Homo sapiens: one gene and its partners. The protein of the gene in region 3 interacts with the protein of the main gene of each other region in a pairwise test. Each region holds a gene or a part of one and is shown on either strand. Other genes may lie near its edges.

Evidence for each region.
Region 1: the proteins of CEP44 (region 3) and BFSP2 interact in binary tests that used the Homo sapiens proteins (3 or more experiments, as listed by UniProt).
Region 2: the proteins of CEP44 (region 3) and DHX57 interact in binary tests that used the Homo sapiens proteins (3 or more experiments, as listed by UniProt).

What each region holds. Positions count from the first base shown.
Region 1 is NC_000003.12:133,403,024-133,410,055, reverse strand, and holds part of BFSP2 (phakinin), read right to left. Parts: intron 1-7,032.
Region 2 is NC_000002.12:38,797,229-38,802,966, forward strand, and holds the end of DHX57 (putative ATP-dependent RNA helicase DHX57), read right to left. Parts: intron 5,688-5,738; coding exon 5,487-5,687; intron 1,227-5,486; coding exon of another isoform or gene 1,215-1,226; coding exon 1,071-1,214; 3' UTR 501-1,070; downstream 1-500. UniProt on the Homo sapiens protein: Probable ATP-binding RNA helicase.
Region 3 is NC_000004.12:174,300,890-174,307,921, reverse strand, and holds part of CEP44 (centrosomal protein of 44 kDa), read right to left. Parts: intron 5,884-7,032; coding exon 5,736-5,883; intron 4,220-5,735; coding exon 4,073-4,219; intron 3,676-4,072; coding exon 3,553-3,675; intron 1-3,552. UniProt on the Homo sapiens protein: Centriole-enriched microtubule-binding protein involved in centriole biogenesis. In collaboration with CEP295 and POC1B, is required for the centriole-to-centrosome conversion by ensuring the formation of bona fide centriole wall.

The DNA.
Region 1 (7,032 bases), on a different chromosome or scaffold from region 3:
AGAAGAGAGCTAGGTGGGAAGGCAACTTCGTCCTGTTGAATTTCCTGATCCCGCCTTTCTTGTTCTTTCATACCCGCCACGGTCCGGGCTTTATGGTTCATGTTGCTTATCTTGACTTCTTTTTCTCCCCAGTGCAGCCTCCTTGGTGTCCATCCTTATGGCAGTTGGACCTCAGCTTTGCTGTTGCTTTAGATTCCACAGCATGAGGTGTAGAAGAGTCCTGAGCACAGGAGTTCTGTCCCCATGGAGTTGGGGTAGCCACCCTCCCAGCACATGGATGTCTTCTTGTTCACCTTACTGGAAGCCCTGATAATATTCTTATTGATTCCCAACCATCTTTGGTTAGTGGGAGCTTCTTTGAATTGACTCCTAAGTCTTCTGACATGACTGTAGTAGTTTTTCATAGCGTCCTTGCTTTCTGGTATGACAAGGTGTTTCAGACTCGTCTTGAATATTTCCTATCCTCGAACCTGGATTCAGCCATTTCTACAAGGAGCCCCCCATTCTTTTAGTGAAAGATGGTTGTTAGAGACCCAAATCTGAGGCTAAAAATGTTCATTGTCGCTAAGTTGGCCATTGCTTCTAGATCTTTTCAGTGGTCAGACTTGGAAATAGGCATATATTTATTTTCATGATCACATATATCATGACTTTATATTGATAATTCTGATTTAAATTCAAGACTAAAGAATTGTCACTAAACGTCATGCATCTTACAACTGTATCTCCTTTCACTCACATTCAAGTCTCAGTTTTCAATAACACAAATATAGTTACTCTCTTACTCTGTCCCACAGTACACACACACACACACACACACACACACACCAGTGTCAGAATAACAGTGCCAGTGCTACCACCACCAATGTGATTACTGAAAAATTGTTGGGTTTTTTTCTGTTGTCTTTTGCATCTCCACTAGGAATGTACAGTTAAATTCCTGTGGTTTAAAAAGCCACTTGGAATAGTTCTTCTTCGTGTGACTATGCTATCAACTTGGTACATAGCTGGATTCATTTGTTTCTTTTTATTTTTGATTCTTAGAATTGGCTTTCTGAAATCTATTTTTGTTATACAATTCTGTAAAATATTTTCATGGTTCCAAAGTCATCTCCACATAACAAGATAAATTAGAAGAACTCTAGTGCCCTACCTTTCCCTGCTACTTTTTCCCCTCCACCCTCCTATAAGTAACATTTAAAAATACTTATGGTTTGTTTTATTCCATTTTTTCAATGTAAACACATATGTATGTATATATTCATATCCTTCCCTTTTCTTAGCTAGATGGTAGAATGAAATACACACTCTTTCCATCTTGCCTTTTAGCTCAATAACATATCCTGGAGATCATCACTCCATAGTAGCTATAGAGCGATTTCTTGTTCCTTTGCAGATGCATCATGGTTTATTCAACGAGTCCCCTCCTGGGAGGTATTTGGATTTTTCCAGTATTTTGGTATTACAGATAGGATTGCAGTGAACAGCTTTGTACATACTTCTTGTTCATATTTTTGCCAGTGTGTCATTGGGAGTGTGTCCTAGAAACAGGACTGCTGGGTCAAATTATGTATACATAAATGCCTATATAATTTGTCTAGATGTTGCCAAATTTTTCTCCATAGGGGTTGTAACATTTTCTATTCCCATCAACACTGTATAAACTTGCCTGTTTCCCTAGAGCTTCACCAACAAATAGTTTGACATACTTTTAGAGTTTTGCTAATTGGATAGGTAAAAGTGGTATCTCAGGTAGATTTTAAAAATTTCTCTTATTATGAGTGCAGTTGAGACATTAGGAGCCATTTTCATCTATTTTTTGTGTCAACTGTCTGTTCATATCTCTAACATTTAAAAATAAAAGAGTGCTATCGGCTTTTTTTAACCTCAAATTTTAAATGCTGTGTATAAAATAGGGCTATTTTAACCTTTTGTATCCTACATTGCATTTTTTTTTCTAGTTTGTCATTTATCTTTTAATTTTGCTTATGGTGATATTTTGAAATGCAACATTTTAAAATTTTTCTTAATCAAATTTATCAATATTTTCCTTTGTTGCTTTTGTATTTTGAATTGTAACAAGAAAAATTTTTCCCACATCCAAGTTATAAAGGAATTCACCTATGTTTTCTACTTGTATGGTTTCATTTTTGATTTTATATCTAGGATACATTTAGAACTGACCCTAGGGTACAGCAAGAAATGGATCTAATTTTATTATTTTCCTTATGACTATCTAGTTGTCTGAATATCACTTATTAAAAAGTCCATCCTTCCCTCTATTGGTTTCAAATGCTGCCTTCATCAATACTCAATTTCCAAACACAGTAGAGCTTACTATAGAATGTTCTATTCTGTTCCATGGTTTTCTCATCTTTTTTGTGCCAACGCTAAACTATTTTAATTACAGAGACTTTATAATATGTTAATGTCTGGCGGGGCTGCTGGTCCCCTCCCCAGCCTCCTCCCCTCCACTCTTTCTTAGTTTTTCTTTCCTGGCCATTCTTGTCTTTCTGTTCTTACAAAGGGAATTTAAAATCAACTCATCTAACTCTAGAAAAAAAAATGGAATTTTAAAAATTAGGATTGCATTAAATTGATACATTAACTTAGGGAGAAGAGACATCTTTATGCTATTGAGTCTATTTGAGTGCATGGTGTTTCTTTCCATTTGTTCAAGACTATTTTGTGTGTTTCAGATAGATTTGATTGTTGTCTAATATAGACTTTGGACATTTCTGAAGTTTAGAGGTGATTCATCTTACGCTATCATAAATAAGATTTTCTCATCTCTTTTATCTTTTTGTTTATATATAAATAGCATTGTTTGTTATTTGTTTTGAGATGGCCCTTGCTTTGTTGCCCAGGCTGGTCTTGAACTCCTGGGCTCAAGCAATCCCCCTGCTTCACCCTCTTGAATACCTGGGACTACAGGTTTGTACCACCATGCCCAGCAGCATTTATTTATTTATTTTTCTTTTAGAGACAGGGTCTTGCTCTGTCACCCAGGCTGGAGTGCAGTTGTAGAATCATGGCTCACTGCAGCCTCAACCTCCCAGGCTCAAGTGATCCTTCTGCCTTGGCCTCACAATGTACTTGGATTACAGGCATTTGCCCACATGCCCAGCCTCAGCATTGCTTTTTGATGTTATTTTATAACGTGCTACTTCACTAAATCATCTTATTTTTTGTCGTATAGTTTTTACATTGTTCCTTCTGGGATTTCCAGAAAGACCAAATTTTTCCCTCTTTCTTTCCAATTCTTATACCAAGTACTTTCTCTTGTCTAATCATATTGACTACTGCCTCTAACCAACGAGAGAGAGCGGGCATCTTTTTCTCATTCTTAATTTCTGTGGAAGGCCTAGTGTTTCCTTCTTAGAGATATTTTATCATGTCAAAGGAAGTCTCTAATCATCCTCATTATTCAGATGAGAAACTGAGATGCAGAGATCAATGAAGACCTTGGCTCAAGATCACACGGTTGGTAGATGGCAAGCGGCAAGGCTAGGGGCTGTCTGGCTTCAAAATCCCCAGTCTTTGCATCACATCTAATTTTCCCTAGTTTTCATGGAAAACTGACCCCACCCCCTGTCTTCCATTTCCCAACATGGAACTCACATTTTAAGAGATCTTAAGAGGTTTAAGAGTGGCCGAGTGTGGTGTATGAGAGGGGCATGGAAAGAGGCCCTGAGTGCCACACCCTAGTCTCCCTCTGTTTTCTTTAGCAGTTCTCTTGCTTTCCAGACACATTCAACTTCCAGAAACCACCTTTCTTAGAAAGCAGCTTAGTGACTGGCTGGGCACGGTGGCTCACGCCTGTGATCCCAATACTTTGGCAGGCCAAGGCTGGTGGATCACCTGAGGTCAGGAGTTTGAGACCAGCCTGGCCAACATGGTGAAACCCTGTCTCTACTAAAAATACAAAAAAAAAAAAAATAGCTGGATATGGTGGTGGGCACCTGTAATCCCAGCTACTTGGGAGGCTGAGGCAGGAGAATCGCTTAAACCCGGGAGGCGGAGGTTGCAGTGAGCCGAGATTGCGCCACAACCTGGGCAACAGAGTGAGACTCCATATCAAAAAATAAATAAATAAAAATAAATAAAGAGGCTTAGTGGCCACCTGTATTATATGAACAAGACCCTTGGGAAGCAGGCTCATGCCTCCTTCTCCCCCTCTCCCATCAAAATATTTCTTCCAATCATATACCTCACTCTTCCTAAGAGGAATGAATCTCTCTAACGGACTTTTCTCTGGTAGCTACATTTCTAACCATACTGTAGTGTCCCTTATAGCTTGGCTGACAAAGAAACCGCCCCACTGGCCTGCTCTGACCAAACAAATTGCACTGATTAAGAAACAGGCTGAGTGACTTTTTCTTGGGGAAATGTGTTCAGGCCTTTGCAGATTATGATTCTGCCCCCATCACCTACTTTCCAGGGATACCAGGTTGTAAATCATGAACAACAAACCCTGTTGCCTTTATTTATTCTCAGTGGAGAAGGATTAGTTCTTGTTTTTTTTTTCTAAAAAGAGAGCCTTCTAGGACCACAAGTTCTGTGGGAGAAACCTGGCCCAGATCTGGATTGCCTGAGTTTCCAGCATGTTCTTCAAGTAGGCAGATTCCCTGAGTATGGGCTGTCTCTGTGCAAGGGACAGAAAGACGGGCTGTGAACAGCAGGAAAAATAGTCAAATCAGGTCCATTTTAAACTCTAATCCTTTGCCTTTCAACAATTTTGATTTCCCATTTTCTCCAGCTGACAGCCTTATCCTTTGGAGGTATAAGCTGCAGTTTTCTCCCATGGAGACCTAGACAAATGTCCTGGCTCCTTAATTTAGAACCTCTGCGCTCCCCTTTCTTCCTCAGGCAGCTTCATTCTCCCCCTGGCTTCAGCTGTTCCTTTTGTTTTGACACCTGGTCTCTGAGGGCTGCTCCTCTGACCCCACTCTCCTTTCATCTGCAGCTCCGAGGCACAAGGCTGCCTTATTCCAAGCTTGTGTTTGGCCTATTTGAGGATGAAAGGGCCTGATGTTGCCATCAGAGCCTATTGTCAGCATCGTTCATTTGGTAAGAAAAGTCAGGAGCACAGAGCAAGGCTGGAGAGGGAAATGGCCCAGGTCTTCCTCAGCCTCTGTAGTTGCCACCTGGGGTTTTTCTGTCCGTTTTCACCACTTAGCGAGGCTTGGAGGTTCTAACACAGCTGAGGAGTGGGAGGAGAGAGGTTTGGAATTGAAACAGAACTTCATATGCATGAACCCTAACTAGGACCAGCTATATAATTTGCGGATCCCAGTGCAAAATGTGGGGCCCCATGTTCAAAGAGCAGGAACAAAGTGCGATTTAAGTTACTCAAATATAATGCTTTTTCCTTTCTTCTGTCATGTTTCAACTTGTTATGGTAATTTTTATCTGCTATTTAATTTCCACTCCCTGGGGAATGGGGATGCTCATGCAGACCTTTATAGGCATCCAGAGGCCTCGCTCCATGATTCTGGGCATGTGCATACCCCACCAATGGCTGCGGTACCTTTCTTACCGGCCATTGGACCGATGTACCATGTCCTGCTGGTGGGGTGGGGTGATAACCCCCAAGAATATTACGACCTCAGTGCCACCTGTAGGTACCTGGGTTGGGGGTGAGCAAGAGGCTTGTCCTCTCCCTCCAGTTGCTGCCACCCAGGGGCTTGGAGCAGGTGTCAGAAGGGGCTCCCAGGGGCAGAGAGGTGGGCCAAGAACCTGTTGTAGGGAGACAGAGGGAGGTAGGACCATTCAAGAGCCCCTGGTCCATACTCCATTGTCCCACAAGACTTCACTTTTAAAACACAAATTCAAAGATAAAACTATTGGCTGGGCACGGTGCCTCATACCTATAATCCAAGCCCTTTGGGAGGCCAAGGCAAGAGGATCTCTTGAGGCCAGGAGCTTGAGGTTGCAGTGATCTCTGATGGCATCGCTGCACTCCAGTGCAGCATCCTATGAGACTTCACTGGTGGTGCACCCATGGAGCCAACCCTGGCCCCAAACTTACATAGTGATATAAGGATGAGGAAGATTCCCCCCTCCCCAGGACGGCCTTCCTGATTCTGCCATGGTGTGAGCCCTCCTGGCACCCTAGTTTCGTGTTGCTTTCCATGATGTGACTCTCTGCACAGTGACAGCAATTGTTTCCCTCCTCCTGGCTCCTCTTCCTGGCTTTTCTGAAAACCTGTCTTTGTCTCCTCTGGGTGGGGGTGAGACAGGCTGTGGGGAGATTCCAGGGGACAGGGGACCCCCACTCCCCAGAATGGCCCCAGGAGCTTTCTGTGCTAGCTGGGGTGGTGATGGCAGGGAGGAGAGCCTGTCTCCTTTCCAACTCTTCTCCCCCTCTGAAAGCAAGAGGAAATGTTGTTTCCCAAACATTTATGGAAATTGTTGCCTGCTCTGACCTTCCCCACTGCTTGCTCCAGCCTGATCCAAGAAAGTGCCACCAAAATGGACATCCCCACCGTGCTATTGAGTGACTGAGGTCTCTCTTGGATTCTCTGTTTGGGGCCCAGGCTAAGGAGGTCGAATTTCTCTCTAGGTGCCAACTTGGGGCTCAGTTGCTGAGAGCTTGCTCTGAGGCCTCAGGCCCTGCATGGGCCCTGAGGAGTCACAGAGGGTTGCCATGGAACTGAGCTGCAGGACCAGGAGGAGTTCTGTGGACAAGGGGGGGAAGAGGCAGCTGCAGGTGGAGAAACAGGAGGGGTAAGGAGTGCTGTGAGGAGCACGGAACACCAGAGCCCAGAGTCTGGAAAGGTGGGCATGAAGCCCCAGCCAGAGTGGCCTAAGTGAGGGCAGAGGGAGAGAGCTCTGGATTTCTGGGGCCCAGGACCGCAGAGTGGCTGCCTCTGACCCCAAGTGAGATGAAGGCAGCGTGTTGTGGAAGGACTGGGCTGGGAGGTGGCCTTTCCTCTAGGCCTGGAAAGGGGTGGGGGCCTGGTGGGGGCCTCCTGCAGCTCCACGAGGCCAGATTCACTGAAAAAATCAGGAGCATTTCTCAATTATGGA
Region 2 (5,738 bases), on a different chromosome or scaffold from region 3:
TGCCCAAGCTGGTCTTGAACTTCTGACCTCATGTGATTGGCCTGCCTCGGCCTCCTAAAGTGCTAGGATTACAGGCATGAGCCACCGCGTCCGGCCCTGAGGTCTAAACAAACATACAAATATTTTTTCTACTCAGCAATTTGGGATCCTTCCTCGCCATACTGATAGATGTCCAGGGAAAATGTAAATCCCCTGATGTTTTTCCAAAATGCTAGCGCCCCATTAACCTAACAGGTGGTTGAAAATAAGCAATTTCATGGAAAGCATTGTGGTGGCTGTAAATCCGATGGTAACCTTTTTGACCTCATCCATGCCAACTCTGCCCCAGGAATGCTATTAAAATTCTCCTTCGGTGATTCGTGTCTGGGTGAGTTGATAAGACAGAGTAAAGATTCCTAAATGTAGAACTATGACGACATCTAGATTGTTCTGCTTTTAAGAATAGGAGTGTTATCGATAAGACCAGCTTGCACTTTAATACCAAAAGAGAACTCATTCAATTTTTTTAAGTTGACTTTTAATGAGTAAAAATAAAAACCCCTCACAAGTCAAGTTTACTCAGTAGCCAATAGCCTAAAATGAAATTTTAATTTTGCTTGTTCACATAATTTTGGGTTTTTTTTCCCCTTCTCTGTTCTGACTTCTCTCAGTCGAGCCTTGGCGACAGGAAAAGAAAAAAAAAAAAGGCGTATTTCTCTTCATGCCCCTCTCACCCCAGTAAAAAGTAGGAGAAAAAGAATACACAGATTAAAACAGAATTGTATTATACATTCACTTTTGAGTTATCAGGTGAACTTAATTCACTCCAGAACAATCACAGAGACAAAGACAGGCAAGCTGGGTTTTAGGCTCTCACCCTTGACACTCCAAATTGTGCTGGGAGTGGCCAAGGCTTTGTTAGAAATGGCCCTAAGGGTATATACACTGCCTCAGCTGCCTTGGGCTTCATGCCCTGGGCTCCTCCACCAGGGCCAGCCCCAATAGGTCTTTAGTTCGAGGTAGAGGTTCTGCTGTTATTTCCCAGGTGAGCTAGAAGCAGGTGAGTAGCAAGCACTCTCTAAGACTGCTTTTTATTGTGTGGTGACAAGTTTCACAATTGTGCTGATGATCCGGGATCCTCGAGGACACGTACACAGATCAATGCTTGGGTTTTTAATTTTATCCTGGAGAAGCTGATCAAGTTCGCAACGAAGCTCCTTTACCAGTTCAGCCACCTAAAATGAAAGCTACAATATAAGCAGTGCTTGGAGGAACAGGCAGGATAGGTTATTGGAGGGAAATACCCAAGTTATGATTACCATTATTTAGATTTCTGGTACTAATTTTAACTCCATTAGGAGCAAAAACCCTAAATACATTTTCATTTTGTAATAGACTAAATGAGGTCCATTGTAAAAAAGTGCCTCTATCACATCTCATCTAAAGAAAAGATTCGGGCCAGGCGCAGTGGCTCACGCCTGTAATCCCAGCACTTTGGGAGGCCAAGGCGGGCGGATCATGAGATCAGGAGTTCAAGACCAGGCTGGCCAACATGGTGAAATCCTGTCTCTACTAGAAATACAAAAATTAGCGAGTTGTGGTGGCATGCGCCTGTAATCCCAGCTACTCAGAGGCTGAGGCAGGAGAATGGCTTGAACCCAGGAGGTGGAGGTTGCAGTGAGCTGAGATCGCGCCATTGCACTCCAGCCTGGGTGACATAGCGAGACTCTGTCCCCCCTGCTCCCCAAAAAAGAAAAGATTCAGTCTGGAAGTATGGCTTTTATATAGTGTTCTCCATATTAAAGTTTGGTCAATTTTTATGATTTATTCCACGAGGAGAAGCAGGAAAATGGGGAATTAAAAGTGGTAGAGAGGGCCGGGCCCGGTGGCTCACGCCTGTAATCCCAGCACTTTGGGAGGCCGAGATGGGCAGATCACCTGAGGTCAGGGGTTCGAGACCAGCCTGACCAATGTGGAGAAACCCCGTCTCTTAGTACTAAAAGTACAAAATTAGCTGGGATGGTGGTGCATGCCTATAATTCCAGCTACTTGGGAGGCTAAGGCAGGAGAATCGCTTGAACCTGGGAGGTGGAGGTTGCGGTGAGCCAAGATTGCGCCATTGCACTCTAGCCTGGGCAACAAGAGCGAAACTCCGTTTCAAAAAAAAGAAAAAAAAAGGAAAAGAAAATTTACTGATCACCGATCACTCCACTGCAGACCTTGTTGTCTCAAAAAAAAAAAAAAAAAAAAGGGTGGTAGATAGGCTGGGCCGGGTGGCTCACGCTTGTAATTCCAGCACTTTGGGAGACTGAGGTGGGCGGATCACCTGAGGTGGAAGTTCGAGACCAGCTTGACCAACATGGAGAAACCCCATCTCTACTAAAAATACAAAATTAGCCAGGCATGGTGGCACATGCCTGTAATCCCAGCTACTCGGGAGGCTGAGGCAGGAGAATTGCTTGAACCCAGGAGGCAGAGGTTGTGGTGAGCCGAGATCGCGCCATTGCACTCCAGCCTGGGCAACAAGAGCAAAACTCCATCTCAAAAAAAAAAAAAAAAAAAAGTGGGCCAGGCTCAGTGGCTCACGCCTGTAATCCCAGCACTTTGGGAGGCCGAGGTGGGCGGATCACAAGGTCAGGAGTTTGAGATCAGCCTGTCCAAATGGTGAAACTCCGTCTCTAATAAAAATACAAAAATTAGCCTGGCGCGGTGGCTCATGCCTGTAATCCCAGCACTTTGGGAGGCCAAGGCGGGCAGATCACCTGAGGTCGGGAGTTCAAGACCAGGCTGACCAACATGGAGAAACCCCGTCTCTACTAAAAATACAAAATTAGCCGGGTGGTGGCGTATGCCTGTAATCCCAGCTACTTGGGAGGGTGAGGCAGGAGAATCGCTTGAACACGGGAGGCAGAGGCTGTGGTGAGCCGAGATGGCACCATGGCACTTCAGCCTGGGCAACAAGAGCGAAACTCCATCTCAAAAAAAAAAAAAAAAAAAATAGCCGGGCTTGGTGGTGTACGCCTGCAGTCCCAGCTACTCAGGATGCTGAGGCAGGAGAATTGCTTGAACCCGGGAGGCGGAGGTTGCAGTGAACCGAGATTGCGCCACTGCACTCCAGCCTGGGTGACAGAGCAAGACTCCACCTCAAAAAAAAAAATAAATAAGTGGAAGATATTAGATGAATCAAAAATCTCTGTAGCTTTGGGATATACTGTATGCTTTATGGCATTTTGCTTATGCTGATGTTGTGGCACTGTAGACATCTTCCCAGCATCTGTTTTGCCCCTTCCCCACTGTATGGGAAACATACAGTTCGGACCCTGCTCTAACACAGGTTCACACTGTGAGCCCTGCCAGGGTGAATGGCTCAGGTACTCCAGGTATTCAAGTTCAGGACATCCCTTTGGTCACAGGGATTGGTTTAGGAGGGGAGCTTTGATTGAGCTTGTAGGCAAGAAAGTTTCTGGCTCTTCTTCTGGACCATATGCTGCATACATGTGATGCCAGGAGCTATTGCAGCCCTTTCGATACCACTAGGTTAACCACGTTTTTGTCACCACTGAACTGCTAAATCAAACCAACGTTGCCTGGCCTTCTTGACCTGGACTATCCAGTAAGGTAGCCACTAGTCACAAGTGGCTTATCTAATGTCTATATGAAATGTGGCCAGCCCAAACTGAGATGTGCTGCGAATATAAAATATATACCCGATTTTGAAGACTTAATATGAAAAGGTAATGTAAACTATCTTAATAATTTTATATTGATTACATGTTAAAATTAAAACATTTTGGATGTATTAGGTTAAATAAAATATATTAAGATTAATTTCATCTATTTCTTTTTACTTTTAAAAATGTGGCTACTAGAACAATTAAAATTACATATGTGGGTCACATTATATTTCTGTTGGACACTGCTGCTCTGGACTTTAAAGTTAAATATGCCAATCAATTTCTTTTAATGTTTGAGTTGGCATATCTGCTTCTTGTAACATAAGAATTCTAACAGATGCAGATATTAAAATGAAATTTTATTTATTTCTTTTTTTGGGACAGAGTCTCACTCTGTCACCCAGGCTGGAGTGCAGTGGTGCAATCATGGCTCACTGAAGCCTCGACCTCTTGGGCTTGAGCAATCCTCCCACCTCAGCCTCTGGCAGTTGGGATTACGGGTGTCCACCTGAAGTTTTATCTATCTATCTATTTATTTATTTATTTGAGACGGAGTCTCATTCTGTCACCCAGGCTGAAGTGCAGTGGTGCAATCTCGGCTCACTGCAACCTCTGCCTCCTGGGTTCAAGTGATTCTCCTGTCTCAGCCTCCTGAGTAGCTGGGATTACAGGCGCCCGCCACCACGCCCAGCTAATTTTTTTTTTTGTATTTTTATATATTCATTTTTTTGAGATGGAGTTTCCCTCTTGTTGCTCAGGCTGGAGTGCAATGGCGCAATCTCGGCTCACTGCAACCTCCGCCTCCTGGGCTCAAGAGATTCTCCTGCCTCAGCATCCTGAATAGCTGGGATTACAGACGCCCACTACCACACCTGGTTAATTTTTTAAAATTTTTAGTAGAGATGGGGTTTCACCATATTGGCCAGGCTGGTCTCGAACTCCTGACCTCAGGTGATCTGCCCACCTTGGCCTCCCAAAGTGCTGGGATTACAGGCGTAAGCCACCGCACCTGGGTGAAGTTCTGTTTCTTAAATATGTACTCTCCATGATATGTTTTTCACAGAGACTCCATATAGGGAATAATTGAGACCTGAGAATAAATGAAGAATTCAGACCCATTATCTTTTTCTCAAAATGGTAGTGGTGGAATCAGGGTGGTTTTTATTTACTTATTTTTGCTTATCTGTATTTTCTGACTTTTCTTTGGTGAACATCTATTATTTATATAACAATAAGGAAGGTCCAGCACCCTCACTTTACAGCTTCTGTCCTAGCCTTTTATACTAACCTCAGCCCGTACCAGACTTCCCCTCACAGTGTGCTTTCTGGAACTCTTACTAGGGCTCCACTCCTGGCTTCACTTCAGCCTCACTCTTTCTTAGTGTCTCATTGTAGACCATCATTCACTTTTTTTTTTTTTTTTTGAGAAGGAATCTCGCTCTGTTGCCGAGGCTGGAGTGCAATGGCACGATCTCGGCTCACTGCAACCTCTGCCCCCTAGGTTCAAGCGATTCTCATGTCTCAGCGTCCTGAGTAGCTGGGATTACAGGCACCCACCAACATGCCCAGCTAATTTTTGTATTATTAGTAGAGACGGGGTTTGACCATGTTGGCCAGGCTGGTCTCGAACTCCTGGCCCCAGATGATCTGCCTGCCTCGGCCTCCCAAAGTGCTGGGATTATAGGTGTGAGCCACTGGGCTCGGCCACCGTCATTCATTTTTAATTAGCTCTGTTACCTTGGTCCCTAGAGGAATGCCCTTGACTTCATAACTTCATATTGTCAAAGCCCCTCATGGCCTGAGCCTCATAAAACAGACCAATTCTGCCTTTACCTGATGGGAAGCAGCTACAAAACGGATCCAACCATCATCCAGGGAGACAACGAACTCTCCTCTTTGAAGCTGCACATTCACTTGGCCTCCTCCAAACAAGACCAGCGGGTACACAGACACCATGCTGCAGTCTCGGATGAATACTCGACTAGTTTTTATCTTCTCGTGGTACAACAGGTAGGGGCTGTCAAAGTGTCTCACCTGTAACAAAAAACCTCAGATGATGACAGTGATGTCACTGGCAACAAAAAG
Region 3 (7,032 bases):
AGCGTGACATGGTATCTCATTGTGGTTATGATTTGCATTTTTCTAATGATCAGTGATGTTGAGTTTTTTTCATGTGATTATTGGCTGCATGTATACCTTCTCTTCAGAAGTAGATGTTCATATCCTTTGTCCACTTTTTAATTAGGTTGTTTTTTTCTTGTAAATTTGTTTAAGTTCTTTATGGATGCTAGATATTAGGCCTTTGTCAGATACAAGTTTGCAAAAATTTTCTCCCACTCCGGAGGGTGTCTGTTTACTTTGCTGATAGTTTCTTTTGCTGTGTAGAAGCTCTTTAGTTCAATTAGATCCCATTTATCAACTTTTGCTTTTGTTGGAATTGCCTTTGGCGTCTTCGTCATGAAATCATTGCCGACACCTATGTCCTGAATGGTACTGCCTAGGTTGTCTTCCAGGGTTTTTATAGTTTTGGGTTTTACATTTAAGTCTCTAATCCATCTTGAGTTGATTTTTGTGTATGGTGTAAGGAAAGGGTCTAGTTTCAATCTTCTGCATATGGCTACCCAGTTATCAAAGCACCATTTACTGACTAGGGAATCCTTTCCCCATTGCTTGTTTTCATCAGGTTTGTTGAAGATCTGATAGTTGCAGGTGTGTGGTCTTATTTCTGGGTTCTCTATTCTCTTCCATTGGTCTATGTGTCTGTTCTGGTACTAGTACCATGATGTTTTGGTTACTGTAGCCCTGTAGTATAGTTTGAAGTTGGGTAGCATGATCCCTCCAGCTTTGTTCTTTCTCCTTAGGATTGCCTTGGCTATTTGGGTCTTTTTTGGTTTCATATAAATTTTAAAGTAGTTTTCTTTAGTTCTCTGAAGACTGTCAATGGTAGTTTAATGGGAGTAGCATTGAATCTATAAATTGCTTTGGGCAGTACAGTCATTTTAACAATATTGATTCTTCCTATCCATGAGCATGGAATGTTTTTCCATTTGTTTGTGTCATCTCTGATTTCTTTGAGCAATGGTTTATAGTTTTGCTTGTAGAGATCTTTTGCCTCCCTTGTTAGCTAGATTCCTAGGTATTTTATTCTTTTTGTGGCAATTTTGAATGGGAGTTTGTTTGTGATTTGGTTCTCAGCTTGACTGTTGTTGGTAGATAAGATTGCTAGCAATTTTTGCACATTGATTTTGTATCTCAAGACTTTGCTGAAGTTGCTTATCAGCTTAAGAAGCTTTTGGGCTGAGAAGATCCTCCTACAATTATTTTAAACATACAGCAATTTTGCAAAAGGAACACCAATCTTTAAAAATTAAAAAAAGTTTAAATTATCACATATAATATATATATCAAAATATTACCATTACTAACATTACCAATAATTTATGTGTGATGATAAAATTGGGGTTATGACTTTTAAAACAATTCTTACATTTTAGGACAAGCGCTGAAATATTTATTAAATTATGTCTGAGATTTGATTTAAAATAAAGACAAAACAAGATTAGCAAAGAGTTGATAAATTGCTGAAACTGGATGATGGGTATGTTTGTAAATGTTTGAAATGTTCCATAATAAAAAGTTATTTTTAAAAAAGATTGCCAAATAATTCACTTATAAATAATCAAAAACTGGCTCTATGAGTAGGGCTCATTACAATTTTTCTGTTAAACAAACTGCAATTTATTAGACCTTCAGCTAACAATTCAAACCTAATAATGACAACGAAGAAGTCCTGACAAAAAAAGCATTAGGTCACGGTATGCATTTACCTAGAAATCCTCTACCTGCTTCCTATTCTACAGTTTGCATACACACTATAAAAACATATGTGACTCAGAAGCGCAAATAGGCATACTATATAAGGCACTGGGATAGGAGACAATTTGCTTTAATATTGACTCAACTTTTGCTTGTAAACAAAGAAATGTACTTGTAGACTCTTTTCTAAATCTGAGAACTTTTAATACTTATTCAAATTTCTGATAAAGATCTGGTATAAATTTTAATAGATAACAAAGAAAACTTTGCTTTAAGAAAATTAAAAATAAGTCTAATGTTTTGAAGTTTACATTTTTCTTGGCTAGGACAATTTACACTGTCCCCTCAACTCTCATACTGAAATAGAACATTGAAAAGCACATTATATCAATAAATAATTAATAAGTGCTCACAGTGTTCCTAATCCTGTGCTAAGCAAAATGAAGGTACAAAAAATCAGTATAAGAAAATCCCTGTTCATATATGTTCCTTCTAGTTGGGGAAGAATACAAGATATAAGTCATTTAACAGTTAGAAAATCATAAATAAAACTAACAAGAGTTAGATGAGTTAGAGATGCAAGTGTACAAAAACTACATGCACTTATTCAAAAATGGCGGCTTTGTATCATTCTTTATATTGTCTTCATTACCTAGAGCAAAACAGGTACATTAAAAAGAAGTGGCATAAGAACATTTTCTTATAATAAAATTTCACTTTTTTAAGGTATAAAGGAATAAACATATTTTTTTGAGATGGAGTCTCGCTCTGTCAGCCAGCCTGGACTGCAGTAGTACAATCTCGGCTCACTGGAACCTCTGCCTCCAGGGTTCAAGCGATTCTCCTGCCTCAGTCTCTCAAGTAGCTGGGGTTACAGGCACCAGCTACCACGCCTAGCTAATTTTTGTATTTTTAGTAGAAATGGGGTTTCGCCATGCTGGTCAGGCTGGTCTCAAACTCCTGACTTTAGGTGATCCACCTGCCTTGGCCTCCCAAAGTGCTGGGATTACAGGCATGAGCTACTGTGCTAGACCCAAGAATAAATTTTTAAAATAGATTCTGTTTACATAACTCATGTATTTTGGATTAGGGCAGAAATAATACTCTAGATTATACTTCAGTCAGAAAGTATTCACATCCTTTACTTAATTACACCATTGATAATTCATCTGATATTCTATCATTCAATCAGAGTCTTCTCCAGCTGGAAGACAGCTGAAAATATATTAATAAATAATATTTTAGCTTAAGTCTCCCTTAGTGATAGAAACACTGTAGCTCTAAGTGCATTAGATTCAATTTGCCACAGCTGCTCAAAGCAGATAATGGCAGAAAAATTATCTTTCAAGAAAGAGAAAATATTCAAAATATTAACTGAAAACCAGATTCTACGTGTAGGGACTACCAATTATTGGATAATTCATACTTGGTTACAGAAATATAATGTACATAAATGAATCATTATAACCTATCACTACTGCTAATGTAGGCTCTTCATATGTTCCCATGTTTTAGGAAGACCAGAACACAATTAAGAGCAAATGTAGATAACTGCATAAGATAATCTTCCTAAATCACTACTCTTCTGTTTAGGAAATCCGGCAGAATTAGAAATTAGAAATATAAAGAGAACACGTATTTAATTTTATATTTCTATCCTATTGTTATAACTTCAGGCATACTGCCCAAAAATATATGGCATGCACTGTTAAAAATCAATGAACTCCAATATCTAACTAGAATGTTCATCAGGTGCCAATCAGAAAAGTGAAAACTGTATATTGGATTAATTAGATAACTCTTAAACAATATGATATTTTCTTTGTGGTTGCATACCTTTCCTGAGGTCATAAACCTGCCACTGATATCAACGCCAACAGCCTCTGCAGATATTTTCTCATTGCCCAAAGGAGGTTCTGACTTACCAGAACTGATTTTCTTTCTTTGTTGTGATGGAATCTAAAAAAAAAGGTATTAGTCAAAATAACAAATTTTGTGTGAAAGCATAATTATATATTAAAATTCCATTAACATTTAAATTTTCATATATGAAATATAGCTGACAAATAATGAGACTCTAATGAGACTACATGACTTTTAAAAACTAAGAAGTAATGAAAATGTATTATGTTTGAACTATTAGTTTAACACTAGGAGTTCCCAGTCACAGGTGTATAAAACAAGAGAGTAGTATTTAAAATAAACAACAAGCTTTATAAGGTTACTCAAATCTTTGAATAATACAGTAATTACACTATGAAATAATTTGCTGTCTAGGGTTTTGATTTTATACATTAAAATACTGAGCCATCTATTAATAGCATACATCAGCATTAATATCTATTCATAAAATTACCTTCTGAAGACTGCTTAATTCCTTGTGCTTTTTCATCACACAATTCAAAATATCACAAACAATTTGGATTTTCCATTCTGCAAACCCACATTGGATAAACTGCTTTTTTGTCAAAATTGGTTTATAATTAAATTGATCACGAAGAAGCTGCAGAGGAAACAGACTCTTGTAATAATTGGGAGCAATTTATTTCTAAAATTCCAAATGATAATGCCCACCTGGTCAGGGGAATAATGGCCACCTTTGAGAGGACAAGGAAAACCAAGCCATTAACTAAAGAGTACTAAAGTAATTCATAGGGCTGGTGTTAAGTCATGATCCAGTAAGACAGGTATCAGGTGGAAAACAGGTAGCAAAGGATATGCTGGAGAACAGATGTCTGTCCAGAGAGATGGAAAAATATAGTCAATCATCAAAAAGTGTAAATATCTTCAGAGATATTAGAAAAACTTCTTAGTTCACTAGAATACCATACCAGAGTCAGAAACTATAGTTCTATTTGTTTATAACTCTTCCACTATGTGATTTTTGGATACGTCAGTAGGCCTTTTGGTCTCAATTTTTCATTTGTAAAATGAAAAAAAACACACTAGATCAGTAGTTTCCTAAATCTACTCTGTGGAGCTCTAGAATTTCTTAAAAGTGCCTCTTAGGCTTCCATGGATGTCTTCTGGGATCAAAAGCAAGAAAGAGAAAGATTAAACAGAGACTACATATAAAAGCTCCCATTTCATTGACTGCAACTCTGCTTTTTTTAAAAGACTATTTGAGGCTGGGTGCGGTGGCTCATGCCTGTAATGCCAGCACTTTGGGAGGCCAAGGTGGGCAGAGCACAAGGTCAGGAGATCGAGACCATCCTGGCCAACATGGTGAAACCCTCTCTACTAAAATACAAAAAATTAGCCAGGCGTGGTCACGGTGCACGCCTGTAGTCCCAGCTACTCAGGAGGTTGAGGCAGGGGAACTGCTTGAACCCAGGAGGCGGAGACTGCAGTGAGCCTAGATCGTGACACTGCACTCCAGCCTGGTGACAGAGCAAGACTCTGTCTCAAAAAAAAAAAAAAAATAGACTACATTTGATAAGTGGGTTTTTACCATTAAAAACTAACTTTAATACAAACCACAGTACTTAAGCAAAAATTAATGATAAAAGCAGGGTTTTAAAAAAATCAAATAAGAGATTAAATTCAGTATACACATAGTACAAGTATAAATACTAGGGTAGATACAATATAAGACATGCTCTCAGACCTCAAAGAATATATCAGTTTAATAAAAAAAAAATGTCAGTAATAGTTCCTTCTTACAAACAACTAAATTAACATATAATTCTAAAAAACTGTAAGTTTTATTGAATATAATTACATTACTCTCTAATTTCTGCCAGTATATCAAATTTTACTAAAATTTGATTAAAAAGGGCAAACAATAGCCAACAACAAATATTTACCAGTTGCTGTATTTATTAGAATAGGTAACATTCAAAAAGCAAACATGAATTGCATCTTGATTTCAATAGAGACTACATTTAAATGAGATAAATACAAATGAAAATATCCTGTCAATTGTATATGCTGCATATATTTAAGAAGTTATGACTAAATCATTAATTTTTAAAAATCATTCAATAACTAATAGTTATTGTTTGATAAACTCAAAATACCTTATAGACAGCATCTATAAAGCGCAAGTCATTTTTTGCTATGAGCTCTACATTGGATTCCATTATAAGTTCTGTTACATAAGGTGAGTATGAGGTAAAAGAATAGCTGATGATGGGCAAAGATGCTGCTGGGTCTCCCTTTATCAAACTGTTAGGAAAAAAAGAAAAATATTTTTAATAAGCATTTAATAAGCATAATTCCACAAAGTTGGATAATCAAGAAAATATTAGAAATGTTTATAATAATTTAAAACTTAACACTATAGCTATAATAATTAGGTGATACATGAGACTTTCTAGATTCCATTCCCCATTTGAAACCAGTCTAGCCAGACTACTATGAAATACCACTGTTCGTCTGCTCAAAAAACTTACTATAGGTCTCTAGTACCAACTATTTACCATTGATTTTCCAAAGCTTAGTCTTACGTGATCTACTCCATTTTCTACTACTAATAAAAGCAATGTACCATCTTACAAAATTGAAGTACACTTTATGGTTTTGCAAACACTTGTTCTATTACCTCCTTTGCTCTCTACCACAAACTTCCAAAGGTAAATATTATGAATTCTAAGTTACAGATGAGGAAGATGGGATGGGAAAAAGCATGAACTGTGACTTGGTTGACCAGTCTATTACTTTTCACTTACTGCTCCTTCTAAATCGTATATTATTACCTATGTTAATTCCACCAGTCTAGAAAGGTATCCCACTCTTCTTTGCTTATCCAATTATTATTTATTTTTTACAAATCATTCATCAAATCTCAAGCTTCCCATGAAGCTTTCCTCAACTTTCTGATCTATACTGATCTCTCCAAGAAAGACTCCCAGGCTACTCAGTATCTGCTGTGTCTTTATCTGTCTGGTAGTGTTTCCTGTCTTATTTTCTCAATGTGAAGTACCTTCACTGATTTTCCCACAACAAAGCACAGGAGGTATTTGTTCAATTTGCCAGTTACATTTGTTCAATTGCAGTATTTTGTACTTATATAAAGCAAATGTTTTCCAAAAAATTCAAGATGTTCACATAAACATCCCCATCTCCACCCAAATTTTTAGTAAGACAGAGAACAAATACATGATGATAGCACTGCATTTTGTTTTACTGGACAAATATGAATTATTTCTTTTATGTTTCTTTGAAATACTGTAATATTTCACCCAATCAGAAAACTCCTCTGGCAACCTTGTCTATCTGAAACACAGTCCAAAAACAGGAAATGAAAAAAAAAATACCTTTGAACAGCAAAATCTGTCCATTTTATGCACACTATACATAGATGATAGCCAGGCA